Linked DNA regions of Homo sapiens. The protein of the gene in region 2 purifies or fractionates together with the protein of the main gene of each other region. This does not show direct contact. Each region holds a gene or a part of one and is shown on either strand. Other genes may lie near its edges.

Region 1 (4,319 bases), on a different chromosome or scaffold from region 2:
GAGGGGTGGGTAGAAGAGTTGCAATTAAATAGGGTAGTCTAGAAGGCCTCTCTGAGGAGGTGACGCTTGAACAAAGACCTGAAGGAAGTGAGAGAGGGAGTCCCAAAGATACACGAGGGAAAAGCTTTTCAGGCAAAGGAGCAGCCAGTGCGAAGGCCCTAAAGTGGGAGGTGCCTGGTGTGATGAAGGAAGGGCGAGGAGGCTGGAGCGGGTGAGGGGAGAGGGGTGGCTGGGGACAGATGCAGATTATGCCAAGCTTTGGAGGCCATGGGGAGGACTTGGCCTTTACTCTGAGGGAAATAGGAGCTGAAAAGAGTGACTCTTTTTTTTTTTTTCTTTTTTCTGAGACGGAGTCTCGCTTTCTCACCACAATCTCGGCTCACTGCAACCTCCGTCTCCTGGGTTCAGGCAATTCTTCTACCTCAGCCTCTCAAGTAGCTGGGATTACAAGCACCTGCCACCACACCCAGCTAATTTTTGTATTTTTAGTAGAGACAGGGTTTCACCAGGTTGGCCAGGCTGGTCTTGAACTCCTGACCTCAGGTGATCTGCCCACCTCGGCCTCCCAAAGTGCTGGGATTTCAGGCGTGAGCCACCACGTCCAGCCTTGTGGTATAATTTAGATGGTATAACGTTCACCTGTTCTTAGGATAGAGTCCATTGGCTCCTGGTCCATTTATGCAGTTGTGTGGTGCAGCCATCACCACAGTCTGGTCTGAGAAAGCTTCTGTCCCCTCAAAAAGTTCCCTTTTACAGTCTCTGCTGCTCCCAATCCTAGGCAGCCACAGAGGTGCTATCTCTGTAATTTTCTAAAAATGTCTTAAACAAGGATCTAAACAACATCCAGTCTTTTGTGTCCAGCTTCTTTCATTGGGCATAATGGGTTTGAGGTTCATGTTGTTACATAGATCTGCAGTTGTTCATTTTTATTTTATTTTTTACAACCTAGGATCAGGGAAATTTGGCCTTTGGGGAAATCCTAAAGTACGTGCTCACAGTTGTTCCTTTTCACTGCTCAGTGGTAGTCTGCAGACATGACACAGTTTATTCTTTCAGTCCTTGAAGGATATTTGGATTGTTTTTAGTTTTTGTCTGTTGCCAATAATGCTGCTATGAACATTCATGTACAGGCTTTTCTGTGGCTGTATTTTGTTTCTTTTTTTTTTTTTCTAAGTAAGAGAGACAGGGTCTCCCTGTGTTGCTCAGGCTGGTCTCGAACTCCTGGGCTCAATGGATCCTCCTGCCTTGGCCTCCCAAAGTGCTAGGATTATAGGCATGAGCCACCACACCTGGCCACTGTTTGTTTTTGAGACAGAGTCATGCTCTGTCGCCTAGGCTGGAGTGCAGTGGTGTGATCCTGGTTCACTGTAGCCTCATTCTCCAAGGCTCAATTGATCCTCCCGTCTCAGCCTCCTGAGTAGCTGGGACCACAGGCATGCACTACCACACCTGGCTAATTTTTGTATTTTTATAGAGATGAGGTCTTGCTGTGTTGCCCAGGCTGGTCTTGAACTCCTGGGCTCAAGCAGTCTTCCTGCCTTGGCCTCCTGAAGTTCTGGGATTATAGGCGTGAGCCACTGCGCCTGGTCTGGCTTCATGTTTTCTGCCTCCTGGGTAGCCATTCAGGATGGGTTTGCTGGATTGTGTAGTAGGTGCACATATGACTTGTTCAATAACTGCCATATTTTCCGAAGTAGCTGTACTTTTACTTTCCCCCCTAGCAGCATACGAGGGTTCCTGTTTTTCCACATCCCTGCCAGCACTTGTGATTGTCTTTCTGCTGATAGCCATCCTAATAGGTGTGAAGTGACACCTCATTGTGGTTTTAACTTGCCTTTCCGTGGGAAGGTTCCCAGCCAGATTGCCCATCACTAACGGGTAAGCGAAGAGACCTGGGAGTCAGTCAGATGCAGCTTCAAATCCTGACCTGGCATCAAGTGTCCTTTCCTGACCCCAAATCAGCTCAGACCCATTGAAACCCATACTTGGACCCCTAAATTTCCCAATAGCTAGGCTGGCCTTGAGGAGGGGGCCTTGTGCCTGTCTGATTTCCCTTCCCCAGCCGACCCCCGCCCCATAGATCTCCTCATCAGAATGTGGCTTTCTCTGTCTCAGCCTAAGGGTCTCACCCAGACGACCCAGACGTCAAAGGGAGCTCCTCAGGGAGGCCTCTCTGACCACCCACTCCAAAGTGGATCCCTGTTCCCAACTCAGTTGCTGTCACTTCCCCCTGCTTGTTTTCCATGTACCATTTTTAATTATCCTGTTTACCGTTCTAGTGTGTTTCCTTCTAGATCCCCAGCTCTGGGTAAGCAGGGCCCAGATTTCTGTCTAAAATGTTCCAGTATTTTCACAACCTGGTCCACAGGTCAGAGAGGTGAAGTGATGTGCCCAAGGTGTCACAGCCAAGAACGGTGGGACCAGGACTATAGCTGAGGTCTGTTTGACCCTGGAGCCCCTCCAATGGTGTCCTGTGCTTTGGGAGATTACAGGAAAGAGCTCTTGCTGGTGAAGGGGACAGGAGGTGACAAGTGACACATTTAACACATGTAGCCCCTCTAACCATGCTCCTGGGACATTTGCTATCTGGTGGGTAAGGTGAATGGAGAAAACATTGCAGAGGAGTGGACTAGGGGCTGTGGAGGAGAGGGCCAGACACTGGAGCCTCAGAGGGAAGTGGGTTTGGGTGACCTGAGCGTCCGGGGTGAGTCCTTCAGGCAGCGGTGGCCACACAGGTGTTTATCACAGCCTTGCTCTGTGCCACTGGTGCTCTTGAGCTAACTGTGACTGTGATAGCCCTGGTCCTGCCTCTTGAAGGCTGATGGCTGAGGGGACAGCTGGGAGGAGGGGTGAATGAGAACAGGACTGGGGAGCTAGCAGGGTGCGTGAAGGGTGAGCAGAACATCCCCTTCCAAACCTGGCATTCAGAGAGTCTCTGATTGTGACCTTCTGTGTCTGAGTGAAGAGTCCTCCTCTGGGAAGCCGTGCCTGGCTCCCTTGCCTGCCCCCCTTCCCTTCTGTCATTCTGCTTCTGCGGTCCTTCCTGAGTGACCAGACAAGTGGCTTCACCTCTCTGAGCCTCCCTTTGCTCAGCAGCCGGATGGAGCTGGTCATAGTTTTGGCCTCAGGATTAGTGTGCTGTGTGCTGTCACAGACATGTCTTGTGGCCGTGGCTTATGGTAGCAGCTGATAGTCTGGTTGTGTTTTTCTGTGTCTGTCCCACCTGCTGGACCAGGGGCCCTTGGAGGGCAGGGTTGGCCACAGAGGGGGCCTCAGGAATGGTTTGCCCAGGGAAGGCTCTTTCAGCTAAGCCCCAGCCTTGAAGAATCTGGCACCTGCCATAAGACTCCTTCTGTTGTTGTCCCCAATAGCCACCTCCTTGCATCCTGGCTCCAGCCCCAGGGAACAGTGGACAGTCATCAGAATCAGACTGTGCCTCTAATCTTCTGTTTCTGCACCTGCTGCTTCTCTCACTTCCTCCTTTGTGCCACCAACTTGCTATGTTTTAGGTCTCAGCTTCAATGCCCCCTTCTCCAGGAAGTTGCCCCGAACCCTAGACTGGACCAGGTGCCTCTCAGGGCTCCTGCATTCCTGCCCCGTTCTGGACAGTCACTGTCTAGAGATGAATCTTTCTCCCCCACCGGGCTGTTAAACCCCAGGAGGACAGCAAAAGACTCTCTAGGTCACCACTGTCCCTAGGTCACAGAGGTGCTCTGCGAGTGTTTTCCTCCTAAAAGAAGAGGACCGCACCTTCCCAGGTGTTTTCACTGATTCATTCTCCAGTTATTGATAAGCACCCACTCTTTGCCCAGCCTGTGCCTGGCCTTCATGCATGATGGTGTCTAAGACAGCCCCCGTGTCCATTCTCCCTCCTTACCCTGGCCTCTGTCCCCCACAGGTGACCAGCAATGGCAGCATCGGGAGGGACCCGCCAGCGGAGACCCAGCCTCAGAACCCACCGGCCCAGCCGGCACCCAATGCCTGGCAGGTCATCAAAGGTGTGCTGTTTAGGTGAGCAGACGGGACTTGGGTTTGTTCACCGAAAACATTCAAATAAAAATAAGGAAGAAAGGAAAAGTCAGCTGATCAGCTGAGGATGGTGATCATTACTGTATGGTAGAGTTGCTTTTTTTCTTTTTTTTTTTGTATGATGGAATGTTTTCTAAACCTTTTTTTTACTCTGGTAAAACATACTGAAGTAGGGAGTCTCCCTGAACCTGTTCTGGTTTTTGGGGGGCTACCTGATTTGTGAAAAAATAAAAACACAAAAAATACTGAAGTAGTTTGCTAGGGCCCTTGTATCAAGTAATATAGACGGA
Region 2 (4,319 bases):
CAATACAAGGGAGTGGCTGCTGATGGTGCTGTTAATAATAATAATAGCCCGGAAAGACCTCCAGAAGCCAGGCCTCGCCACTTCTAGAACACCTGTGTCCCACCCCCACCCACACTGCGGCCTCCACTACCCCTGAGATCCCCTCATAATATTAGGAGTAATATCATCTCCCTTAGATGATATTATGAATAATATCACAGGATGTACACCCACTGTGCTATTAGGAGTAATATCATCTCCCTTAGATGGCCCAGTGTATAGTGGACTGTCCCAGCTCAAATACCACCTCTTCCTGGAAGCCTTCCCTTCTTCCCTCACCCAGAAGGCCCTTCTCCCTCCTCTGAAGACCCTTAGATTTGGCCTTCACCTCCCCTACGGCATTGACCAGTCAGAAAAGGGCGGTAAATAGCACCTACCAGGGCCAGCCCAGACATTTTCTCATTTAACCCTTACTACACCATTGGCCACTGCATTATCAGGTCCATGTGCCGACGGGGGGACTGGGGCTCTTGGAGATGACATGACTTGCCTGTGAGTGGCACGTCATGCGCTCAGCCGTGCAGCCCCTGAGGGCAGGTGGCAGGTGGCTTGTTCACCACCAACTGCCGCTCTGTGACACACGCAAATGAGGAGCAGCTTCTCCTGAGCTCACTCTCAAAGCCCTTCCTGCTGCAAAGGCCCCTCCTGTACCCCAGCTGCCACCCCCTCCCCGCCTTCCTGCCCACCCCTGGGTCTCTGCTTACCTGGCCCACGGAGCCATCTTCAAAGCCAGTTTGCGATTGATGCAGAAGCCAGCACCCCCAGTGGCAAACCAGAACTGTACCAGCCTCTGAGAGAGAGGAAGGCCAAGGGGCAGAGTGAGCCTGGTGGCAGTTGTGGGGAAAAGGGACAGCCAGGCCACCCTTCACCCCCAACCAGCATGGCTCAAAAGCCCTTTATTTTGAATCTCACTAGAGTCTTGCTACAACCTGGCATTATTGCACCCATTCTATAGATAAGAAAACAGAGGCCCGAAGTCACATAGTTAATTATGAGTGGTGAGGTCACTGATCAGACTCAAGTCCAGCTGAATTCCAGTTAAAGGGGACAGGTGTTGTTTTACCCACCCAGCCACCATGCCCCTTTCCCCTGAGAAAGGTCTCTACCTCACTCCATGTGGCTTGGGAGGGGCTGCCGAACATGGCACCTGCTCTCCTGGGCCACAGAGGTGGGCCTAGGTTGACGGGGCCTGAGTGTGCATAGGAAAGATGTGGCTGGGAAACAAAGGTCAGGCTGTGTCCAATACAAATCACTAACACTTTTTTTTTTTTAAGAGACAGAGTCTTGCTCTGTTGCCCAGGCTCAAGTGCAGTGGCACCATCTCTGCTCACTGCAACCTCCGCCTCCCAGGTTCAAGCGATTCTCCAGCCTCAGCTTCCCAAATAGCTGGAACTACAGACGTGCGCCACCACGCCCAACTAATTTTTGTATTTTTTAGTAGAGACAGGGTTTAACTATTTGTTGGCCAGGCTGGTCTCAAACTCCTGACCTCAGGTGATTCACCTGCCTCGGCCTCCCAAAGTGCTGGGATTACAGATATGAGCCACCGCGCCCGGCCTCAGATCACTAACACTTTCTAGTGTTGACTTCGTGCCAGGTCTCATTCCAAGGACTTGGAGAGATGACCTCATTTCATTCTTTCTTCTGTGTTCACGACCACTCTTTGAGTAGGGGCTGTTATCACCCATTTCACAGATTAGGAAACTGAGGCACAGAGAGGTGAGGTGACCTCAGTCAAGGTCACAAAGCCAGGAGGTGGCAGGGCTGCCGTGTAAACCCAGGGAGTCAGGCTCCAGCGTGCAGTTCTCCACCCCAGAGGCAAACTGCTTAGGCAGAGGTGAGTCGCCAGCAGTGAAGTGGTGTGAGAGCCTGGGGGACCCCCTGGCTCCCCTGGAATCACTCATACACAGAGCCCTAGGGCCCAGAAGAATTTAATTAAGGCTCAGAGGCTGATTAGCTACTGATAATTAAGGCTCTGTGTTTTCTGCTCTTGGTTTTCCTAATGAAGCAGATGGGGACCTGGGAAGGGAGGTTGAGCCCCGCTGTGTGCCCAGCTCCTGCACCAGGCACTGCCTCTAGAGAGGGACCTCCCGATCTGCCTTCTTCCTGGAGCCAAGGGAGCCCTAGGGCCAGGACCACTCTAACACCTGATGCCCAGGGGGTCCTGGGGACAGGGAGAGAACCATGCAATATTTGGGACATACTTATACTAAAAATTTCCTCATTATTTATGAGAAAGTCAAGTTTAACTGGATGTAGTGGTTTTTCATTTATTTGTTTAATGAATCTGGCAACCCAAATCAGTGTCCATCCAGGTCAGGAACTGAGGCGGGTACAGAGCCCCCTGTTTTGCCAGGTGTCGACTCTTCAGTCACAGGCTAGTGGAGGTGTCTGGAGGGAGAGGGTGCCCCAGGAGGGGAAGGTGGGGAAGGGTTCTGGGGCTCAGGTGGCAGCAATCACCCAGCCCCACAGTATTCAGCAATTTTTTTTTTTTTTTTTGACGGAGGGACGGAGTCTCGCTCTGCCGCCCAGGCTGGAGTGCAGTGGCACAATCTCAGCTCACTGCAACCTCCGCCTCCTGGGTTCAAGCGATTCTCCTCTCTCAGCCTCCCGAGTAGCTGGGACTACAGGTGCCCGCCACCATGCCCAGCTAATTTTTGTATTTTTAGTAGAGACGGGGTTTCACCATATTGGTCAGGCTGGTCTCGAACTCTTGACCTCAGGTCACCCACCCACCTCAGCCTCCCAAAGTGCTGGGATTACAGGCATGAGCCACTGCCCCCAGCCATTCCAGCATTTTAACAACCTGCACACCTACATGGGGACACCAGGTGACTGGGAGCCCTGCTGTGGTGTCACACAGCCTCAGCTCACCTGGATGCTCCCTGAGTGACCAGGACAAGCCGTGGTTCCTGGGGGATGGAGGCCTCACTATGTACTGTGTCTGTGCCACGACTGCATGATCTCAGTCTCCCCATTTCACAGAGGAAGAGACTGAGGGTTGAAGAGGGGAAGCTACCAGCCCAAACCCACATAGGGCCAAACCTGAAACCCAGAACCCCTCTCACCTCTCTAGCACACCCCCACCCCCAGGACCGGCCCGGCCCTTGGGATCAGCGGGCCAAGGGGCAAAGGAGGAGGAGAGGGACCCACCGTGCGGTTGTGGGGCTGTGGCTCTGAGGCATGGATGGGCCGGTTCAGGCTGGGCCTTCCCACATAGACGTCGCGGGCCAGCGGGAAGGCTCTCAGAAGCTGCAGCAGCGCCCTTGGGTTCACATAGTTGTCATCGTCCACATGGCAGAACCACCTGTAGGGATGAAACGGGGACAGTGAACTTGTTGGGGGGGTTCCAAGCCAGGGTCCCCAAGCACCCCCACAGTCGGTCAACAGTGACGGAATGGGGGTAGGGGTGGGAGAGGCTGACATTTAAGGCATCTGTTTTGTGCCAAGTTGCATATTGTGTAAGCTCATGAGGAGGGTACCCACTTCACAGTTGAGGACCAAGACTGAGAGGTTAAGACACTCGCCCTGGCCAGGTGTGGTGGCTCACGCCTGTAAGCCCAGCACTTTAGGAGGCCGAGGCAGGTGAATCACCTGAGGTCAGGAGTTCGAGACCAGCCTGGCCAACATGGTGAAACCCCGTCTCTACTAAAATTACAAAAGTTAGCCAGGCATGATGGTGGGCATCTGTCATCCCAGCTACTTGGGAGGCTGAGGCAGGAGAATCGCTTGAATCCAGGAGCGGAGGTTGCAATGAGCCGAGACTGCACCATTTGCACTCCAGCCTGGGCAAGAAGAACGATACTCTGTCTCAAAAAAAAAAGCCATTTTCCCAAGGTCACATACCCAATCCTGAATGTCAGGACTGGAACCCAGCTGGACTTCCCAGCCATCTGCCCACTGCCTGCTAGAGGAGTGGGGGCTGAAGTCAGACCCCAGGAGTCCCAGGGGTTATTTTCACTGGGCCCAGACCACACTTATCCCCAGAGACCCAGGAACACTCGCCTAAGCCCACTGGCCAAGAAGGTGTCGAACTCAGCAGCCATCTTGCAGGACAGAGCTGGGTGGCTGTGTTCCGCGGAGCAGTTGGTGACCACAAGGTGGGACCCTGGAGAAGTGAGGAGGAGTCAGGGGACCCTGCCCAGGTCCCCCCTTCAGAGCCCTGAACACAGAATACAGAGCAAGGCTGGGCAACAGGGAGTCTGGAGCAGCCCACCCACTCCCATTTTACACATGGTAGGACTGAGACCCGGGGAAGGCAGACCTGCCCAGGACCACAG
Region 3 (4,319 bases), on a different chromosome or scaffold from region 2:
CGAGACGTCATGCTCTTTGTCCTGCCGCAGGTGCACGCGGCCTTGGTAGTCCCCAAAGGAGCGGTGCCTCAGCCCGATGGCCACCAGCACGTCCTTCTCTGGGGCCCCGTTCTCCGACAGCTTCCACCATTTGACACGCACACGCCGCGGGGAGACCAGGGCCGGCTCGTAGCGGTAGCGGCAGGGCAGGATCACACTGGCCCCTTGGTAGGTGAACAGGGTCTCCTCGGGTGTCTCCACCACCAGCTTCACTCCATTAAGGAGGTCTTGGGGGAGAGACAGGGTGCAGATGAGACCTGCTGAAGCACATCTGTACCCCTGCAAGGGCCACCGCACACCCTCATCCACGGCTCCTACAGGCTCAGATTGCAAAAATGGCCACCATGCTCCACCCCTCCCTGTATCCACATGCTCTGCAATGTGACTTTGCATCTCCTTCCATCAAGAGATGACAGTTATTCCCCCACCCCCTTGAATCTGTGCTGGCCTTGCCACTTGCTTGACCAACTGAATGCCTTGGAAGTGACTGTTATCCATCATGCCTGCTCTGAGCATAGGTCCCAGGGGGCCTTGCTGCTTCCACTCTTTTTTTAGGACTTTGCCAGCCACCATGAGCACATGGCCAGGCTTGCCTGCTAGAGGATGAGAGAATACACAGAACAGAGACAGGGCGCCCCAGCTGAGGCCATCCTACAGCAACCAGCCCCCAGCTGACCTGCCCACCATGGGCAGGCACATCTGCAAGACCCAACCGCAAGACCTGAAGAAATGGAGCCCACTCCAAAATGCTGACCCACAGAATCATGAGCTAAACAAATGGCTGTCATCCTAAAGAAGTCACTAAGTTTTGGGTGGTTTGCTATGCATAAAATCTAACCAATGGAGCAGGCAACAAGAGCCACCCCACATGAGGTACATGGCCAGGACAAGTGGCCCTGATAGGGATCCGTCGGAGTTTCCTTCCCCACCACACTGGCCAGAGGACAGCACAGCCCTGGCTTTACTCTCTGGTCCAGCTGTCCACCATAACTCTTCCCAAATACGGAGCAGCCTACTGAGCTAAGGGCAGAACTTCTAAAGGAGACTACGCTCACGGCTCAGAGTTACAAATACACACAGAACTCAACATGCAACAAAAGAATCAAGTTCATAGGCTAAGGCTGCCTCATCTTTAACTTGGGAGCCCCTGTTGGGACCTCACTGATTCATTCTCTTGGGTCTAGACTTCAAGACATGCTTGATTTACTCAAGGTGGGGACAGGGGCCAGGCACGGTGGTTCACGCTTATAATCCCAACACTTTGAGAGGCCAGGACAGGAGGATCGCTTCAGCCCAGGAGTTTGAGACCAGCCTGGGCAATAAAGTGAGACCCTGTCTCTACAAAAAAATTTTTAAAACTAGCTGAGTATGGTGGTAGATGCTTGTGGTCCCAGCTACTCGGGAGGCTGAGGTGGGAGTATTGTTTCAGCCCAGAAGTCAAGGCTGCAGTGAGTCATGATCGCACCACTGCATTCCAAACTGGGTGAGAGAGCAAGACTCTGTTGCCAAAAACAAAATAAAAACAAATTAATTAATTAAAAAGGTGGAGGCAAGGGGACAGCCTCATGGGTAAGCAGGAGACAGACAGGGAGGTTCCCTGTAGAGGAATCGTGCTAAAAAAGAGCTATACCTAATGTAGCAGATTGCCATATGCAGAAGTCTCCAAGTGTGGCCCTCGGGCCAGCAGCATTAGCATCACCAGGAATTTGTCAGAAATGCACATTGTGGGGTCCCAGTGCCTCAGAGACTCTGGGAATGGGGTCCAGCCTCCAGGGGACTTTCAGGCTCATTCAGATTAGAGCTGTCCTGCTCTGCAGAGGCAGTAGGTACAGAGGTTTGGAGTCAGGCAATTCGGGCTTGCCCTTGGTTCCACCTTTTCCCAGCTGTGTAATCCAGGGAAGTCAAGACTCAGCTTCCCCATTTGTAGAATGGGTTAATTACAGTCCCTACAGAGGGCTGTGGTAAGGTTCAAATCAGGTAAGGCAGGATGCCTGGCACACAGAAAGTGTCCAATAAATATGAAGCAGGGCTATCATTTAGGGGCCACTTCCTTGGTTCTTCCCAACTCTCTTAAGTAAACTACCTTTGAAGCTTTAACCTGAATAAAATGAAAATGTACATCCATATGATAAAATACTATACAGCCATGTAAAATAATCTGGTAGATGTACATTCAATCATTGACTTAGAAAACGAGTTCTATTCTATGAGGTGATAAGGGAGAATACAAAAATCACATGTATGACATGAGCTGGTTTTTGTTGGAGAAAGTTTTCTAAATCATAAAAGAATGGCTCAGCTAGGTGCAGTGGCTCACGCCTGTAATCCTAGCACTTTGGGAGGCCAAGGCGGGCAGATCACTTGAGGCCACGAGTTCGAGACTAGCGTGGCCAACACGGTGAAGCCCCATCTCTACTAAAAATACAAAAATTAGCTGGGCACAGTGGTGCACGCCTGTAGTCTCAGCTAACTCAGGAGGCTAAAGTGGAAGGATCTCTTGAGCCCAGGAGGCAGAAGTTGCAGTGAGCCGAGATCACACCACTGCACTGGTGTGACAGAGTGAGACCCTGTCTCAAAAAAAAAAAAAAGAAAAGGCTAGAAAGAGATACCTAAAAAGTTAACAGTGGTTCCCCTGGGTGGGGGGATTATATATGACTTTGCTTACATATTCAGGGACAAAAGGGAAAGACAAAAATGAAATGTTGGCCTGGTAGTGTAGTGAAACTATGAGTAGGAAGTTTAAGTTTTTTAAATTCCGCAAATCTCATTAAAGTAGTGCTTGTAGGCCGGGCACGGTGGCTCACGCCTGTAATCCCAGCACTTTGGGAGGCCAAGGCGGGCGGATCAGGCGGTCAGGAGATCGAGACCATCCTGGCTAACACGGTGAAACCCCATCTCCACTAAAAATACAAAAAATTAGCCAGGCATGGTGTCGGATGCCTGTAGTCCCAGCTACTCGGGAGGCTGAGGCAGGAGAATGGCGTGAACCCAGGAGGCAGAGCTTGCAGTGAGCCGAGATCGCGCCACTGCACTCCAGCCCAGGTGACAGAGCGAGACTCTGTCTCAATAAATAAATAAATAAATAAAGTAGGGCTTGTATAACAAAATAAATTCTGAAGGAAAAGGGTGTGGTGGGCTAAATAATGGCCTCCCAAAATACCCTAAATCCTAATTATGTAGCAAAATGGACTTTGCAGATGAGGTTAAACTAAGGATGTCGAGATGGGGAGGGTATCCTGAATTTCCCAGGTGGGCCCTAAATGCAAATGCGCAAGTACCTGTTTAGAGGGAGGCAGAGGGAGATTTGCATATAAAAGAGGAGAAGACCACGTGACCAAGGAGGCAGAGCCTGCAGTGAGGCAGCTACAGCCAAGGAATGCCAGCAGCCACCAGAACCGGAAGAGGCAAGGCAAGAACAGATTCTCCCCAAGAGCCACAGGAGGTACAGTCCTATCCGCACCTCGATTTCTGCACAGTGAAACTAATTTTGGATTTCTGGTGCCTAAAGCAGTGAGAGAATACATTTCTGTTGTTTCAAGCCACCAAGTTTGTGTTAATTTGTTACAGCTGACCTAGGAGACTAATCAAAAGAGGGAAAATGCCTCTGCAGGCACAATCATCTACTCAAAGGCAGAGGGAAAGGTGAGAAACACCCAGCACTGCACTTGCAGGCTCATGTGTCGTCTCTGAACCAGGCTGTGCGCTCTTCATGGCAGGTGCTGGCTATTACTGAGACCAGCCATCTGGTTCGTTCCTTCCACAAACAAGTGGAACAAGTTTGTTGTTGTTGTTTTTGAGGCAGAGTCTCACTCTGTCACCCAGGCTGGAGTGCAGTGGTGTGATCTCAGCTTACTGCAACCTCCTCCTCCCAGGTTCAAGCAATTCTCATGCCTCAGCCTCCTGAGTAGCTGGGATTACAGGTGCACGCCACCACACCCGGCTAATTTTTTGTTTTTTGTGTTTTTTTTTTTTTTTTTGAGACGGAGTCTCACTTTGTCGTTCAGGCTGGAGTGCAGTGGTATGATCTCAGCTCACTGCAACCTCTGCCTCCCAGGTTCAAGCAATTCTCCTGCCTCAGCCTCCTGAGAAGCTGGGATTAAAGGCACCTGCCACCACGCCCGGCTACTTTTGTATTTTTAGTAGAGACAGGATTTCACCAGGTTGGTCAGAATGGTCTTGATCTCTTGACCTCGTGATCCATCCACCTCGGCCTCCTTAAGTGCTGGGATTACAGGTGTGAGTCACCGCGCCTGGCCAATTTTTTGTATCTTTAGTAGAGG
Region 4 (4,319 bases), on a different chromosome or scaffold from region 2:
TGCACTGTGCACAGCGTGTCCTTGCCCTCAGAGTCACCCTTGGGGCCAGAGTCCTTGTGGCTGTAACTCACAGGGTCATTGGCTGGGGCTAGGAGGGCAAGCTTCTCTGTTGGTGGACACATCACACTGTGGTTTTTTGTGTTCAGAAGAAACCTGCCACACTGGCCTGTCTCCATCCATTTGGTCACGGCCCCACAGGAGTGGGGAGCGGAGGTCCATGCGGCCCTATGCCTCCCCTGGACACAGGGTCAGCTAGGAAGGATATGGATAGCCTCTTCTGAGCAGTCAGGGCCTCGTGAGCCTGAGGCAGGAGACAGAAGCCTGCCCCGGCCGCCTCGGGCCCTTACTCCCTGGCCCTTGGTCATTATTGTTTCTAAAACGTTTGTCTCACCTGCTACCTGAAGAAGGTCCCGCCCTCTGGCCCTTGAGGCCCCGAGTGCCCAGGAGCTGCTGCCATCAGCATGGATGGGTGGTACCAGGCAGGCTGTGGGTGCAGGGTGCTTGGGGAGGGCCAGGTGTGCCTTGGGACGTGTGAAGTGGGAGCCTGGAGCAGGGAAACTGAGGCCTGCTCTCGCCCCTGCTGCCCACAGCTTATCTGCCCCCTGGAGACCAGCCGTGCCTGACCCTGGGGTCGTCAGCTCAGTCCTGCTGGGTCCTTCCTCCACCCCATCTGCTGAGAGCTCCTCCAGGGCAGGGTCTGAGCCTGCCAGGCCACAGAAAACACTGGGCGGATGACAGCTGCCTGTCCCTTCCTCGGCAGTCTGCATGCAGTAGTGCTGGCCTTGCTGCCTGCCCCTGGAGCCATCACTGGCTACCCCGCCTGCTTCAGAGCTGCCACCCCTGGGGCTTTCTGACATGTCCTCATAGGCGGGGGTGGCCTGCAGTGGCACCGCACCACTTGCCAGGCACTGTGCCTCCCTCCCTGCAGGGAGGTGTGCGGTCAGATCAGGCAGTTGCCAGCGGACACCAAGAAGCGCTTTGTGCTCCCCGGGGTCCCTCCATGCCCCCCACCCCCACCCCTGCCCAGGGCAGTGTGAGGGGAGGAGGGGAGCAGTGTGGGTACACTTCCATGTTGCCATCTGGGGAATCCTGGCGGGGGGTCAGGGCCCTTCTGGAGCTGCTCCCCCGGGCAGTGAGGGGCCCTGTGGGCTCCTAGGCTGCCTGCCTGGCCCTGGTTCTACTTGGCCTGAAGCCCACCCACCCCAGCGTGGACAGGAGCCAGGAGGAGGAGCCCTCTAAGAATGACTGCAGCCTCTCCCGGGGCTGAGCCCACACACACACACCGGGCATATCCACAGCCGCCACCACGTTTTACCCACCTGTCCAGTGTCCTGACGCCTCCAGCCCAGCGTCATAGCGAGCCTGGCAAGGACATGCTTCATGCTGGGCTCCTGCCGCGCAGGGGAGGGTGGGAGGTGGAGTCTTCCTTGGGTCGTTTCTCCCTTGTGCACGCACCGTTACATACTGTGCAATGCGTTGGTGTCTTGGGGGACAACCCAGCAAGTAGAGTTGGTGTATACGTCATGGCTTCCTCTGGGGTCCTGGGCTGGCTGGTCCGCTGGGCACCCCCCCCCCAACCACCACCAGGCCTTGGCAGGACCCTGGGACTGGGACTGGAGGTGACCCTCGCTGGCCCCTGCCCACCTTCTGTTCCTGCTGAGTGGCTCTTTGGGTGGCACCATGCCCAGGCTGTAAACAGCTGGTGAAGACTGCTGGCCTCAGGCGGCTGTGGCTCTGCGACTTCTCTGGATGCGGTATTGGTGGCTCCACCCACCAGCAGGAAAAAGTCAGGTTGTCCCTCCAGAGGAGCCAGGCCAGGCGCTGCAGGGCACTGTGGTGGTCATCCTGGGTAGCCATGTGACCGTGGCATGCTCCTTGGCATCTCTGATACCGGGTTTTGAAACGACTGAGAGCTAAGTGCAGGAGTTGGTTGGCATTAGAGGCGAAGCCCAAACTCCTGTAGTGGGGACTTTGACTCAGAGCAGCCCTGGTAGCCCCCCTCATGCTGCGTCACAGCCCTCACCTCCTCTCCCCGTCTCCTTGCAGGAAGTTCTACTACATCACCCTGCTACGAGACCCCGTGTCCCGCTACCTGAGCGAGTGGCGGCATGTGCAGAGGGGTGCCACGTGGAAGACGTCGTTGCATATGTGTGATGGGCGCACGCCCACGCCTGAGGAGCTGCCGCCCTGCTACGAGGGCACGGACTGGTCGGGCTGCACGCTACAGGAGTTCATGGACTGCCCGTACAACCTGGCCAACAACCGCCAGGTGCGCATGCTGGCCGACCTGAGCCTGGTGGGCTGCTACAACCTGTCCTTCATCCCCGAGGGCAAGCGGGCCCAGCTGCTGCTCGAGAGCGCCAAGAAGAACCTGCGGGGCATGGCCTTCTTCGGCCTGACCGAGTTCCAGCGCAAGACGCAGTACCTGTTCGAGCGGACGTTCAACCTCAAGTTCATCCGGCCCTTCATGCAGTACAATAGCACGCGGGCGGGCGGCGTGGAGGTGGATGAAGACACCATCCGGCGCATCGAGGAGCTCAACGACCTGGACATGCAGCTGTACGACTACGCCAAGGACCTCTTCCAGCAGCGCTACCAGTACAAGCGGCAGCTGGAGCGCAGGGAGCAGCGCCTGAGGAGCCGCGAGGAGCGTCTGCTGCACCGGGCCAAGGAGGCACTGCCGCGGGAGGATGCCGACGAGCCGGGCCGCGTGCCCACCGAGGACTACATGAGCCACATCATTGAGAAGTGGTAGTGGCGGTGGTGGCCACGGGGAGGCCTCTTGGGGGGTGTGGGGGATAAAACAGGACAGACGACAGGTCCACCCAAGACTGTCAAGGGATGAGCATCCCAAACCTGCTCCACAGAGGTAGCTGCGTCCTGAAAAAAAACAGAGCAGGGATGTAGTGGGGCTGGGCAGGGATGGGGGCTTGAGAAATCAACAGGTGCAGCCCAGTGGGTCAGAGGAAAGCGTGCTCGAAGGATGCCATGGTCAGGGCAGGGCCTCCAGAGCAGGTGTTGTGCCTGGAGCTGCTCTCCTGGCCTCCTTGGATTTATCGCAAAAACTGAAGGTTTGCGCAAGAGACGAGGACAGCGGAAAGTGGACCTGCCAGGCCGGGAGTGTGTCCCTCACCAACTATGCACACAGCACTCGCTCTTAGCTCCTCTGTCCGGGCTACTAGGAGTGAGACCAGCTTCTGGCAACTGCCCCAGCTCCAGGCCATCCCATAGCCCCTCCTCTTCTGGCTGCCCCCAATGCCCCGAGGCCTGGGGAGCCCCCAGCTCACCCATCTGTAGCTCCCTCAAAGTCAGGGCCCACCCCATCTGAGGCAGAGAAGACTCGAGTCCAGCCCCCAGGAAGCCTGCTCCCCTCTCTGGCCCATGGTCCTGCTTCATGCTTTGGGTCAGGAGGCCAAAGCTGATGTTCAGGCCCCACCCACTCCCTACAGTCCTCAGACCAAGGAGGGGTTTGGGTAGTAGGCCCGAGCTGCATTGCCGGCCTTCCTCGGGCCAACTGGCAGCCCAGGAGTGGGGAGGCTTTGGCCAGGGATGCTGCCACTTGTGCGTGAGTCCGCGGCTGGCCCTTGGAGGTGACCATCCAGGCAGGCCTGGCTCAGACTGGAAGGGCTGGGGACCGAGGGCTCCCCTGCCTCTGTTCTCCTTTCTGACCCACTGGGATTTGCTAGCAGGCTGCCCCAGCCCCATCACCGAAACACATACTCAAGAGCTCAAATACCACTGCTCCCACCAGCGTACGGATTAAGTTCATCAGGCTTCCATCGGCTGGAGCATGGGACCATAGCCCCTGCCCAGGAGCCGTACCCTCGGACCACAGTGGCTCTGTATGGCCAGGAACTGGGACTCGAGCTTTCAGATTCTCAACTAGCCTTGGCAAAACAGCTGTAGGTGGCCTCCCTGACAACAGACACTCAGCCCTCCCCACCCTGGCTCTCCTTGCATTTCCCCATGCTCCCCACCCCCTGGCAAAAGGCTGGCCATGCTCTGTTCCCAGCAGCCGCGCAGGTTTCCCCACTGGCTGCAATGGCCCTACCAAAAGCCATGTTGCATATCCGTTGTAAGCACGTGCCCTGTGCCCTGTCCCCATTCCTTATGCCCTAGGAGGCCAAGCTGGTGTCTCTAGGAGGGCCCACACAGGCACCCTGGATCCCCCAGAGAGTAGATTGGTGTGCTCAGGCCGCAGGCTGACTCAGAGGTAGGGCAGTGGGCTCTGCAGGCCACCTGGCTGGGGTTGGTGGGGGTCCTCTCTCCTGCCCCAGCTTCCACTCAGCCACCACAGTTGCCACACCATGGGGTGGAGA
Region 5 (4,319 bases), on a different chromosome or scaffold from region 2:
GGCGGGCGCCTGTAGTCCCAGCTACTCGGGAGGCTGAGGCAGGAGAATGGAGTGAACCCGGGAGGCGGAGCTTGCAGTAAGCCGAAATCACGCCACTGCACTCCAGCCTGGGAGACTGAGCAAGACTCTGTCTCCAAAAAAAAAAAAAAGGTCAGTGTTTAAGAGTAAAAAATTAGGAAATAAACCAAATGTTCAGTAGGGGTTGGCTCAGTAATAGTCACTCCACACAAGAAAAACTTAAAAGTGTGTTTTGGAAGGATAGTTAATAAAAAGGAGAACGTTCACAGTAAATTTCTATGTGAAAAAATGCTGCATATAAAACTATATATGGAGTGTAATCTAAAATCACACTGACATGATGGGGTTGGGGAGGGAGGCAAGGAAGTTGTGAAAAATGAGTATGTGACTGTGGAGAATCCTAGACAGGGGACAGGGGAAGAGCGGAATGTGTGAATATAAACATCACAAGCAAATGGAAAAAAGACAGGGTAAACCTTCACAAAAGATGTCAGACAAGAAGTGACGGCCAAAGGGAGGGGGACAAGGGGCCTGATGGAGGGCGGCATCTGCTATGACAGCCTCAGATGGAGGAAGGAAAGCAAAGACAGCAGTCACAAGAGGTCTTTTTTTTTGAGACGGAGTCTTGCTCTGTCACCCAGACTGGAGTGTAGTGGCGTGATCTTCGCTCACTGCAACCTCCGCCTCCTGGGTTCCAGCGATTCTCCTGCCTCAGCCTCCTGAGTAGCTGGGATTACAGGAGTGCACCACCACATCCAGCTAATTTTTATATTTGTAGTACAGACAGGGCTTCACCATGTTGGCCAGGCTGGTCTTGAACTCCTGACCTCAAGTGATCTGCCCGCCTTGGCCTCTCAAAGTGTTGGGATTACAGGCATGAGCCACTGTGCTTGGTCACAAGATGCTTTATGAGTAAACTGGGCCCATGCCACAGAGCTGAGCAGATCCCTGGAATCATGGCAGAACTCACATAATAACCATGTAGGTGGCAGCCAGGACAGTCTTTCTGACGAAACAAAATAACTGACTCTGGGATCCTAAGCACTGAGGATTTTACTCCTCACAGACTGTACAGTAACGTGTGTGTGTGTGTGTGGATAAGCGTACACACACACACACACAAGGGTCTAGCAGTAGTTGGATATGGAAGTATTTGGTTGGTGCAAAAGTAATCGCGGTTTTTGCCATTTTAATGTAAACCTAATAGAACACAGAAAGGGGATTCACAGGAGCTGTATCTGCAGGCCAAGGGCTGAGTAACTACTAAAGATAATAAAACTACAGGCTGCTCATTTGCTGTCTCTCTCAGGTTTATATCCTTACCTCTGACTGCAGCCACCACTGGGCTCAGGCTGACTCACAGTCAGGTGCCCTTTGGCAAGACAGGATTCAATAAATCTCATCGGAAAGCCAGTTAGCTGCAATTATAGGGTTTTCCCCAGGATTAAATGAAATAATACATGGAAGGCACTTACTTAGAAAACCGTGACTGGCCCTATTGGTGGTGAGCGCTGATTACTCAGCTCTTATCCCCATCTGGTCTTTCTATAGCTAGTCTCTGTCTCTCTTCCAAGTCTTCCCAAAGCTCTGCTTTTAACGCTTTTTTTTTTTTTTTGAGACAGAGTCTCACTCTGTTGCACAGGCTGGAGTGCAGTGGTGCGATCTCAGGTCATGGCAACCTCTGCCTCCCAGGTTCAAGCAATTCTCTGCCTCCGCCTCCGCCTCCCAAGTAGCTGGGATCACAGACACTCGCCACTATGCCCGGGTAATTTTTGTATTTTTAGTAGAGATGGGGTTTCGCCATGTTGGCCAAGCTGTCTTGAACTCCTGACTCAGTTGATCCTCCCACCCTGGCCTCCCAAAGTGCTGAGATTACAGGTGTGAGCCACCAAATCTGGCTAACACTACCTTTCTTAAGAACCTGCAAAGACTCATATTTCACTAGACAGGTAACTCCATGAGGAAAAAGACACTACCATCTTGTTCATACTGCCTCTGTCTCGGCCCTAACATCTCTTCATTTTTTCCCTCTGGCTGAGTCAGGAAAATCAGCTAGTCTGTTGCCTACCCATTTATCTTAGTGAAACTGGTACACCAGGTCCCACTTCTTCCAGCACCCACACTTCTACAAGTGGGTCTCTTAGATTGACCCCTCACTATACTTCCTTTTCATACCCCCACCCCCCAAAATCAATAGGAAAAAACTGGATTAAGAGAAAAATTTACTGGAATAATTTGATAGGTTCATTTGATAAATGCATACTATTTTATTGGATTAGGCTGATTAGAAACTTAACATTTCCATTTTGGGGCTATACTACTGACTTGTTTTAACTTGTGGATAGCCTGAGAAGTTCAAAAAATTATGTTTATCTTCTAATATTTATTATATGGTTTAGACTTTGTATTTGTACCAGTAATCTTTTTCCTCTTTTTTTTTGAGACGGAGTTTCACTCTTGTCACCCTGGCTGGAGTGCAATGGCGTGATCTCGGCTCACTGCAACCTCCGCCTCCCAGGTTCAAGCAATTCTCCTGTCTCAGCCTCCCGAGTAGCTGGGATTACAAGCACCCGCCACCATAACCAGCTAATTTTTGTATTTTTTAGTAGAGATGGGGTTTCACCATGTTGGCCAGGCTGGTCCTGAACTCCTGACCTCAGGTAATCCACCTGCCTCAGCCTCCCAAAGTGCTGGGATTACAGGTGTGAGCTACCACGCCTGGCCACTTTTTTCTTAAAAGTAAGTTTCCAGGCCAGGTCCAGTGGCTCACGCCTGTAATCCCAGCACTTTGAGAGGCTGAGGTGGGCGGATCACCAGGTCGAGATCCAGACCATCCTGGCCAACATGGTGAAACCCTGTCTCTACTAAAAATACAAAAAATTAGCTGGGCGTGGTGGTGCACACCTGTAGTCCCACTTACTCAGGAGGCTGAGGCAGGAGAATTGCTTGAACCCGGGAGGCAGAGGTTGCAGTGAGCCGAGATTGTGCCACTGCACTCCATCCTGGGCGACAGAGTGAGACTCCGTCTCAAAAAAAAAAAAAAAGTTTCCATATGCATAATAATTTGTCTCCTCTATTGCTTTACCTAATTTATTCCAAGTGCCCCTTTCATAAATTTGATGAAAAGTTGCTTACTCTATTTTTATGTAGTTAAGTTCTTCATTTTCCCAGTGTACCAGTGCGATTTCATAGGGCTGAATTTCATGTTTTTCTAGAACTTTCATCACATGCTTCATCTAGAAGAAAAGGAAGATTAATCTGAAATCATAACTGACTCCCTCAGTTCAAGTATGTTATGATTTTAATGCTTATAACAGTCTTCATTACACTTACAGGCATTATTTCTGTTGCATGTTTTTAAGGAAAAGGCAAATCAAATCCATTGTGATATTAAAGTAATCAGGATGACATGTTCATTTGTTTTTACATTTGGAAAACACAGATGAGAATGGAGAAGAAAATCAAGGTTATCATTATCCCACAACCCAAGGAAAATCACTAGTAATATTATAATTTGTATTCTTTAAATCTCTTTAATAATCCCAGCATTTTGGGAGGCAGAGGCGGGTGGATCCTTGAGCTCAAAAGTTCAAGACCAGCCTGGGCAACGTGGCAAAATCCTGTCTCTACAAAAAAATACAAAAATTATCTGGGTGTGGTGATGTACACCTGTAGTCCCAGCTACCTGAGAGGCTGGCTTGAGCCTGGGAGGTGGCGGTTGCAGTGAGCCAATGTCAGCCGGTGTGACAGAGCAAGACCCTATCTCAAAAAAATAAATAAATAAAAAATAAAAAGTAAAGCCCAACATACTAATAAAAAATTAAGCCACACAGGTGTGGGAGGTGATCATCTCTTTCTCTCTTCTGTACTGAAATCCTAATCCCCAGAGGCAACCATGATTAAACTTGGTGCATATCCTTCCAGACTTTTTATGTGTATATATGTACATATTTATGCTGCTTTTTATGTAAAATAGGATCATATTATGCACATGACATTTTCAACACTATTTTCCTTTACAGACGAACTGCAATTTATTTAACCAACCTAGGTGTGTCCTCCATGGGGAATTTTTTCTACTCTCCATTACAATGTTGCGATGTGCCACACTTGTGCAAAGGTCTTCATGGCTTTGTGGGAATACTTCTTTAGGAATTGCTAGATCAAAAGATATGTGGACTTACACAATATGTATATATGTAACAGACAGGGTCTCACCTTGTCACCCAGGCTGGAGTGCAGTGATGCAATCATAGCTCATTGCAGCCTCAAACTCCTGGGTTCGAGCGATCCCCCTGCCT
Region 6 (4,319 bases), on a different chromosome or scaffold from region 2:
ATGTTTCATAACACTAATTTTGTGTAGTGATTAAAAGCATGAATTCAGGAACCAAGCTGCCTAGATATGAATTCCAGTTGTGCTTCTTTACTATCAGTGTGTACCTCAGTTTACTCATCTGCAAAACAAAATAGTGGTACCTACCTTATAGAGTTATTATGAAGATGAAAAGAGTTCACATATGTAAAGTGCCTAGATCGATGCCTAGGCCAGAGTAAGTGCTGTATAAGTATTAGTTATTATTAAAATAAATTATCTTTGTTTTAAGAGATTCAGTATAAGTAAAGGGAAAACTTGTAAAGCAATTTTTATTTTACCTAGTGCATATAATTATTACATGTTAGACAATTTATGTTAATGAGATACAGGACCAATCCTATAGAGAATCATTTTTAAAACAGCAAGTGTCTTATTCTGGAGAGCTAGATTTATAAATAAGCAACAGGGTAATGCCCACAGTATTTCCTACCCCAGAATATCTGTTACTGGCATCTGCACTTTCATATTTGGACTTATTTTTTCTTGTATAGACTTTTACTTTAGTAATGTTAAAACACTCCTTGGGAACAGATAATGTGAAACTCTTATCAGCAAAGCCTTAGAAGAAAAACTGATGTGGGTGAGAGAATAAAGGGAGGATACAGAAAGGAAAGATTAGAGGGATGCTAAAGCAGCCTGCTTAGGCTTGATCTTATTAAAATAAGTATTCAGGACAGAGTTAGTCTTATTCTAAGGTAACTAATGGTTTTGCCATCTTTGTAGAAAAGATATGCTTTGTAATAAATACATCCATAAAGTATGTTGAAAATTCATGCTTTGAGACAACTGCTTTTGGCCTTTAGTTCCAGCTTTACCTCCTCTCTTCTCTCTTTCACTCTGTGTGTGTGTGTGTGTATGTATGTGTCTGTGCATGCGTGTATGTGGCTTATAGATTACAAGAAAGTAAAAAAAACAATGGAATAATCAGAAATAAAATTTTTCAATGCCTTGCCTGGCTACTTAAAAAAAGATTCACTTTTCACTTCCTTCTTTAATCCCTTAACTTCTGAGCTCACCTATTGTCTTTGGGAAGAAGCAGAAGGAATAATCCCATAACTACCCTCTGGGCTTCATTTTTCATTCTCCTCCCTCAAAGTAAGTAGAATGTATTAGAATTTATTTGCATAGTAAATATATTGGTACTAGAGTGCAGATTTGTAGGCTATGCCTTCATCGCATGTTCAATGTAGTGTGAAGGAGAAATATTGCTAGGAACTCAAAAGTTTGCTAACTTAGGAAATAGAAATATAATGTACTATAGGATAGCATAATAGGCCGACCGAACTGAGATGGTATAAGAAACTAAGAAAAGCTTCCTGGTGGAAATTATTTTAAACTGAGATCCAAATGATTACTTTAGCTAGGGAGGGAGGGATTAGGTAATTGATGGGTACTCTAGGCAGGGGTGAATTTTTCACAGCATGTGTGAATTTTTTAAATTGGGAAGGTAGCAGTGGCACTTTGAGGGAACTGAGTTTTTTATTTGAAATGGAGAAGAGATGAAAATTGCCATCGCTTAACCAACACATTTTGATTACTATTTTATAGGTAATTTCTGGACAGAAACTCACACGACTATTTACATCAAATCAGATATTAACAAGTGAATGCTTGAGTTGCCTTGTAGAGCTACTTGAAGACCCCAACATAAGTGCTTCACTGATCTTAAGTATTATCGGTTTGCTGTCTCAACTAGGTAATGCATTTAATTTCTCCTTTTTAGTTTTTGGAAGATGTATGAACAATATTTTAAAGTGCAGGCTTAGTTATAGAATCTCTTAAAGAATGATTCACCTTCAAAGACTTCTCAGTCTAGTGTGCATTGTGAATCTTTTGACACTGAGGAAGTCATAGCTACCGATCAAAGAATGATCCTTCTGTAATAGATTACACTGAATTTAGAACTAAAGGGTAAAAGTACTGATGTTGCTTTTTCTATCTTTTCCCCCATTTCTTTAGTTCTTAAATGTTCATTTAGTGGTCACTACTCCAATTTGGGGCAGGGCGGTGGGGATATTTCTTTGTGTGATTATAATAGTAATATATGCATAGTTTAAAAAATTCTAGTGATCCAGAAGTATTAACACAGAGCAGCATTGTCCAATAAAACTTTCTTCAGTGACAGAATGGTTTTAAAACTGTGTTATCCAATGTAGCAGCCACTAGCCACATGGAGCTATTAAGCATTCGAAGTGTGGGTAATAGACTAAGGAACTGAATCTTTAATTTTAATTAATCTAAATTGAAATAGCCACATGAAGGCTAGTGGCTACCAAATTAGACAGCCCAGACATAGAGTAAAATGGGGTGAGCCTGTACCCATTACCACCAGCCCTCATCTTTTCAGCTTTGAGGGTATAATCTCATTTAATGGTTTGGTATGTTTCTTTGCAGATATTTTTCTGTGCTGTAACAAAACAATACTTTTGGATCTTTAATTGGTTGTTTTCAGCACAAATGGTGTTGTGGAGCACCAGATGTTTCTTTCCATATCAGTATCTTTAATAGCTGCCTAGTGCCTTAATTACAGGGTACTGTAATTTATTCAACTATTCCCCTAATAGTGGACAGTCAACTGTCTTTAAGTTTTTGCTATTGGAATCAATAGTGCAGTGAACATTCTATGTAATTTTGCTCAAATATTAGTGTGTTTCTATTAGATAAATTCCATTAGAATTTCTAGATCATTCTAAAATTTGATAACCGTTACTAAATTGCTTTCTGAAAAGATTCTTCCACTTCTAACATCCACCAACAGTTTGAATGAATATGCCAGTCACTTCCAGTGTTTATACTTTAGAAGCATTTGAGGTTTCCAGAAAAATTGAAATGATAATCTTTTTAAATTAATTTTTTCACAGATACATAATATTTATACAAACTTATGGGGTACATATGATATTTTGTTACCTGCATAAAGTATGTGATGATCAATTGAGGGTATTTAGGATATCCATCACAAATGAGGATTTATCATTTCTATGTATTTAGAACATTTCAAGTCATATTTTGAAATATACAATACATTGTTAACTATAGTCACCTTACTCTACTATCAAACATTAGAACTTATTCCATCTGATTGTGTGTTTATATCCATTAATCAATCTGTCTTCATCTCCCCCACTAACGGCTCCCCCTCACACCTCCCATCACCACACACTCACCCATATTCTTCCCAGCCTCTGGTAACTGTCATTCTCCACTTCCATGAGATCAACTTTTTTAGCTCCTACACATGAATGAATACATGCAATATTTTTCTTTCTGTGTCTGGCTTATTTCACTTAACCTAATGGCCTTCAGTTCCATCCGTGTTGCTGCAAATGGCATGCATTCTTTTATATGGCCAAATAGTATTCCATTGTGTAAATATACCATAAAGTGATAATCTTTTAATATTCAAAGTAAATGATTTTAATTTGATACTAAAATAATTAGTATCAAAGAAAAAGCTTGCTACAAATGTGTAAACAAGTTTTTTCTTTGATACTAGTTTATTTTACATAGAGAAATCATTTGAATTTCTGAATTGGAGGGTTATCATAAAGAAAATAAGAAAATAGCCATATCATACCTTTTTTAATAATAAATTCATATGAAATAAATTCTGTATGAATTATCTGCAAAACCTTGTAAGAAAATGATATATTTTGTGCTTTTATTTTAACTTATAGCAGTAGACATTGAAACCAGAGATTGTCTTCAGAATACATATAATCTGAATAGTGTGCTGGCGGGAGTGGTTTGTCGGAGCAGCCACACTGATTCGGTGTTTTTGCAGGTATACAGACCCACACAGTGTATTCCCCTTTCCTTACTGTCAGATCAAAATTGATAGTTTCTGTCATAAACTGCTGACTTACAGTGTATATATGCTATATAATAAATACTACATGATTAGGCACAGTTCATCTCATTAAAAGCTGGTTGCACACATACAATTTAAATGTTTCTAGAGAAGAGAAGCTTATCCATTTCTATCACCACTATTGAAGAAAAACAAATCTACATTATAACTGCTTTGACTTATAAACACAGATGTCTGTGTTTTGAGACATAAGCTATTTATATTAAAATTGTAACGTGAGTTGGCATCTAGTCTCAATCTGTGGAGGAAACGTTCTACAAAAATTAAAGCTGTAGATAGAGTCTATTTAATATAGATTCAAAGCTCTTCATATTTCATTGACTCTAAAATGTCATCAATTGTAAGAAAGAAAAACATCACAAATTAAATTGACATGCAGTTTTAGAGGTGATAAAATGTGAAGAAGGGT
Region 7 (4,319 bases), on a different chromosome or scaffold from region 2:
GCTGTCTCTGTTGGACAACTCCTTTCTACAGAGTATTTCCTGGTGCTTTGATGTATCTGTTTTAACCAAACCCTAGCTGTGGGCTCCAAAACCAGTTGTCTCTCACCACTCAGAGCTCAGGTTTCCCCCAAGAAGTTGGCCTGTGAACCATCAAGTCTGGTTGTCTAAAAATTCCTCCTTCAAAGACAGTCAAGTTTCCCTTTGTCTAATTTCATTCTCTTTTTTTTTTTTATAACCACTACTTTCCACTTCAATAAACCAACTTCCTGCCTCGAGACACATTCTGGCAAATGTGTCAGTTTGTATTGTTCAGATGAGAGACTTCTGTCATTCTTTCAAATTTTTCCTCCATGACAATAATCCCCAGAGCCATCCTCTCAGGAGCCTGAGTTACTTGTCTGTGAATTTCCTTTCACTGCTTCTTACTCTACTGATAAATCAATGCAGACCGCCTGCAGTGAACTTACTCAATTCGTATCCCTTCTGATCACATCTTTTTTTTTTCCATTTCCCCTATCCTCTCTTCCATCGCATCAGAAGAAGGGTTCTTATGGATTTCGAGGCTAACCCACTGCCCTCCACTTGATTTTGGGTCTAGCCCCATCTCTCTACCCTGGACCATGCACTCATTCCTTCCTCCCTTTTTCTTCTTTTAATATCCTCCTCTCTACCTGAGCCTTCCTCAAACCCAAGCTATCTACCATGTCTCTCTCGGATCAGTTCCTTGAAAGGATGAACTAACCAGGCCACCTGCAGTTCATCAGCCCCCGTGTAGTCCTCAATTTTTTGCATTCTGGATTCCAGGTTCATGAACTGACCTGACAGCAGGACCAGGGACAGTCTGTTGGATACAGCTTTGTAACGAGTCTGTTGCACTGGATGGCATGATTAGTTCACTTACGTTGTGCTTCTTCCCTTGGCCACCATCATCCTCCACTTCTCTGCAGATCCTGCTCTATCTCCTCTCCTAACTTCTTTTTTGCCTGACCATTTCTAAATATCAGGAGTCCCCTGAAGACTGTATGCTTGCTTCTCTTTTTACTCTACATACTCTTGTTCGGGGAGCTCAACCATTCTCACTCTTTACATAACAGCCCTATAGAGATGATCCATTAGTCCAGGCTTTGGCCTAAACTCCAAGCCTAAATTTCTAAATTCTTGCTTAACATCTTCATATGAATAATGTCAACTAACAGTTCATACTGGCTTTTAACACCCCAAGTACAGAACCATGCCAGAGGTAGGACTATGAAGAGGCTGAAGATACTGGCCCTGGAGCTGCACCTGCCTGAGTTCAAATTCTGAGTCTGACACACATGATCTGTGTGATCCTGGGAAAGTTACTTAGCCTCCTTGTGCCTCAGATTCCTCATCGTAATATGGGATTAATCTAGGTTGAAATATTTAAGGTGCTTAGAGTAGTGCTTGGTACATAAAAAGTATAACCTACCAGGTAAGTGTTACCTATTATTATTGTTATTCTCCTAAAAACCTGATAAGATAGGTATTATTATTTTATCCATTTATACAATGAGAAAATTAAGGATAATGTGGGTCATGATGGAATTTCAAACTCCAGATGTTCAAATCTTAACTCATATTTCCCATTAAAATTCAACTTTCACTTAGCCAGGCATGGAGGCATGTCCCTGTAGTTCCAGCTACTCGGGAGGCTGAGTCAGAAGGATTGCTTGAGCCCATGAGTGCACAATGATCACAACTGTGAATAGCCACTGCTCTCCAGCCTGGGCAACATAGCAAGACATCATCTTTAAAAGAAAATTAACTTTTGTATACGGGCCATTCTTGATTTAGGGTGTTCTGTCCTTCTCCCTCCCCTTGCCCATATACCCACTAGAAATACCCAATCTGCTATTTCCAGAGTCATTTTTATAAAACAATAGTTCCCTTACTTCTTCTTTTCTTAAAAACATCCTGTTTTAAGGTACAATCTTGTCACTCTCTTTAAAACCCTGTAAGATTTGCCCCAATATAGCTTACGTCTTTTCAAACAATATTGTTCTCTCTTTTCTCTAAATCGAATCTCACTCTATTCTACATTTTGCTCCAAACCCAAGTATGCTCATCTGTCCCCACTGCCTCCTCAAAATCTCCTCCCCACCCTTTAAGACCCAGTCAAATCCCACCTCTTCTAATGAAACCTCAAGAAACCCAGTCTCTTCCTTTGCTCTGGTGACTAGTCTAGTTCACAGAATGCTCTTCCCCAACCAACCTCCAAAAGGACCAATAAATAGATGTTTAAAATTTTAACATATTTTGTATTTCTCGAGTAATGTAATATAGATGTAATATACTGTAAAAAAAAAAAAAAATACAAAGTTCCCTTCATCCCAACTCCCATAAGCCATCCCACTTGGCAGTTTTTCATGCACTGACAAATGTAAACCATACACGTGTGCTTGGTTTTTTACTTCTTAAAATATATATAATAGACATCTGTACAAGTCAGTATATTCAATCTTTTTAACAGCTAAACAGTATTCTAAATCTGCATTTTATTACAGTTATGAATAAGGTGTGCCATCTCTTTCTGCCCCCATCTCCTGTATGTGAATACTCTTAAGGTAAAGATCATGTTTTGTTTGTCTTTCCGTCTCCAAGAGGATCTTGTACCAAGGCTGGGAATTGCTTAACACGTGCTTAATGAAATAGTAACAACAATATCTGTCATCAAAGCAGTGCATGTCGTGTGCCAAGAAACCAGCTGTTAGTGCTTCACATACATTATCAGATGTAATCTTCATAACCACCCAATTATTCCCATTTCACAGAAGACTTAACCAAAATCACACAGCTAGTAACAACAGGGGATTCTAATCCACATCTGTCTGACTCTGGAGTCCCCGCCCTTCATCCCTATGCTATAGTTAATAAAATTTTTATAAGGACATCCTTATAAACCAAAGCTGGAAAACAGAAGAGTTCCAAGTAGTCTGGTGTGGGCAGGTGGGAATGAGGATAAGAGACAGGAGGCGGAATAAATGCCAAGTAGATGGAGTCAAGGGATTGTAGCTATAAACCTACCGAGAACCTTCTAGGAGAAAGAGCTGAATTCTTTGCCTCCCCCTTTCAGACTCCCCACTACACTTCCCTTTGGTAACAGTGCCACCATTTGTTGAAGATCTTCCATGTGCTGAATATGCCATTATTATTCCTATTAATAATTTCTGGCCGGACGTGGTGGCTCATGCCTGTAATCCCAGCACTTTGGGAGGCTGAGGCCAGCAGATCATCTGAGATCAGGAGTTTGAGACCAGCCTGGCCACGATGGTGAAACCCTGTCTCTACTAAAAATACAAAAAAAAAAAAAAATTAGCTGCTCATGCTGGTGGGGACCTGCAATCCCAGCTCCCTGGGAGGCTGAGGCTGGAGAATCGCTTGAACCCAGGAGGTGGAGGTTGCAGTGAGCCGAGATTGCAACACTGCACTCCAGCCTGGGTGACAGCACGAGACTGTCTCAAAAAAAAATAATAATAATTTCTAATTATTTCTAATCCTTCAAAAAATGCTATGGCACATATATCAGAGCTACCATTTTATAGATGAGAAAGCTGAGACCCAGAGAGGTTAAGTTACTTGCCAATATTAGACTGTAATAAATAGCAAAGCCAGGATTCAAGTTGAGGATCTGCATGGCTCCAAAGTCCTGTTTTTCTCGTACAAAATAACACGTTTTTATTTTTAAAGAAAAGATGAACTATGATTTTTAGACATCTAGACTCAGTTAAGATCACATTTGGCTGCAAGTAACTGACCCAAGTTCTGTGGTTTAACCAAGTAGAGATTTTATTTTTCTCACAGAGTCAAGAAATGGGTCCAGTAGAGCAGTTGCAGAATGCTATCAGCTTCTCAGCCTCCTTCTAACCTTCCACCCACTCATCCTTAACCCTCAAGCATCTTGTCTTTGGTCACGCGATGGCCTGCTTACTTTCTCCAGGGAAGAAGTACAAAGAGCAAAAGGCTTAACAGGCAAGCTCACAGAGGCTTCCCCTTTTAAGAGCTTTGGGGAACGGGGCATCCAGCTATTTACATCTCATCAGCCAGGACTACTGTCACTGAACCACCTCCCAGCTGCAAGGGATTCTGGGAAATCTAGCACTTAACTGGACATAGTGGTGAATTAAACAAAATGGGTTCAGTTACAGAAAAGGAGGGGGGAATGGATATCAGTTGGGCATCCAGCTGTGTCTTTCCCACATGAAGTGCAAGTCATCCTAGAGAATCAAATTCCCTTAGTAGAGAAAAACAATAAAAGAAACTTAATTCTGTGTTTAGTAGCTTTCTCAGTTATGCAAAGT

What was found.
Region 1: the proteins of MFNG (region 2) and CLPTM1 purify together in Homo sapiens (affinity purification with mass spectrometry; one large-scale study listed by BioGRID and IntAct). This does not show direct contact.
Region 3: the proteins of MFNG (region 2) and HAPLN3 purify together in Homo sapiens (affinity purification with mass spectrometry; one large-scale study listed by BioGRID and IntAct). This does not show direct contact.
Region 4: the proteins of MFNG (region 2) and HS6ST1 purify together in Homo sapiens (affinity purification with mass spectrometry; one large-scale study listed by BioGRID and IntAct). This does not show direct contact.
Region 5: the proteins of MFNG (region 2) and RMND1 purify together in Homo sapiens (affinity purification with mass spectrometry; one large-scale study listed by BioGRID and IntAct). This does not show direct contact.
Region 6: the proteins of MFNG (region 2) and CIP2A purify together in Homo sapiens (affinity purification with mass spectrometry; one large-scale study listed by BioGRID and IntAct). This does not show direct contact.
Region 7: the proteins of MFNG (region 2) and PPFIBP1 purify together in Homo sapiens (affinity purification with mass spectrometry; one large-scale study listed by BioGRID and IntAct). This does not show direct contact.

The regions. Positions count from the first base shown.
Region 1 is NC_000019.10:44,958,065-44,962,383, forward strand, and holds part of CLPTM1 (putative lipid scramblase CLPTM1), read left to right. Parts: intron 1-3,898; coding exon 3,899-4,011; intron 4,012-4,319. UniProt on the Homo sapiens protein: Involved in GABAergic but not glutamatergic transmission. Binds and traps GABAA receptors in the endoplasmic reticulum (ER).
Region 2 is NC_000022.11:37,476,153-37,480,471, forward strand, and holds part of MFNG (beta-1,3-N-acetylglucosaminyltransferase manic fringe), read right to left. Parts: intron 4,148-4,319; coding exon 4,045-4,147; intron 3,347-4,044; coding exon 3,193-3,346; intron 830-3,192; coding exon 744-829; intron 1-743. UniProt on the Homo sapiens protein: Glycosyltransferase that initiates the elongation of O-linked fucose residues attached to EGF-like repeats in the extracellular domain of Notch molecules.
Region 3 is NC_000015.10:88,881,460-88,885,778, forward strand, and holds part of HAPLN3 (hyaluronan and proteoglycan link protein 3 isoform 2 precursor), read right to left. Parts: intron 267-4,319; coding exon 1-266. UniProt on the Homo sapiens protein: May function in hyaluronic acid binding.
Region 4 is NC_000002.12:128,266,598-128,270,916, reverse strand, and holds part of HS6ST1 (heparan-sulfate 6-O-sulfotransferase 1), read left to right. Parts: intron 1-2,046; coding exon 2,047-2,755; 3' UTR 2,756-4,319. UniProt on the Homo sapiens protein: 6-O-sulfation enzyme which catalyzes the transfer of sulfate from 3'-phosphoadenosine 5'-phosphosulfate (PAPS) to position 6 of the N-sulfoglucosamine residue (GlcNS) of heparan sulfate.
Region 5 is NC_000006.12:151,424,329-151,428,647, forward strand, and holds part of RMND1 (required for meiotic nuclear division protein 1 homolog), read right to left. Parts: intron 3,255-4,319; coding exon 3,154-3,254; intron 1-3,153. UniProt on the Homo sapiens protein: Required for mitochondrial translation, possibly by coordinating the assembly or maintenance of the mitochondrial ribosome.
Region 6 is NC_000003.12:108,582,481-108,586,799, reverse strand, and holds part of CIP2A (protein CIP2A), read left to right. Parts: intron 1-1,587; coding exon 1,588-1,735; intron 1,736-3,716; coding exon 3,717-3,823; intron 3,824-4,319.
Region 7 is NC_000012.12:27,530,474-27,534,792, reverse strand, and holds part of PPFIBP1 (liprin-beta-1), read right to left. Parts: intron 1-4,319. UniProt on the Homo sapiens protein: May regulate the disassembly of focal adhesions. Did not bind receptor-like tyrosine phosphatases type 2A.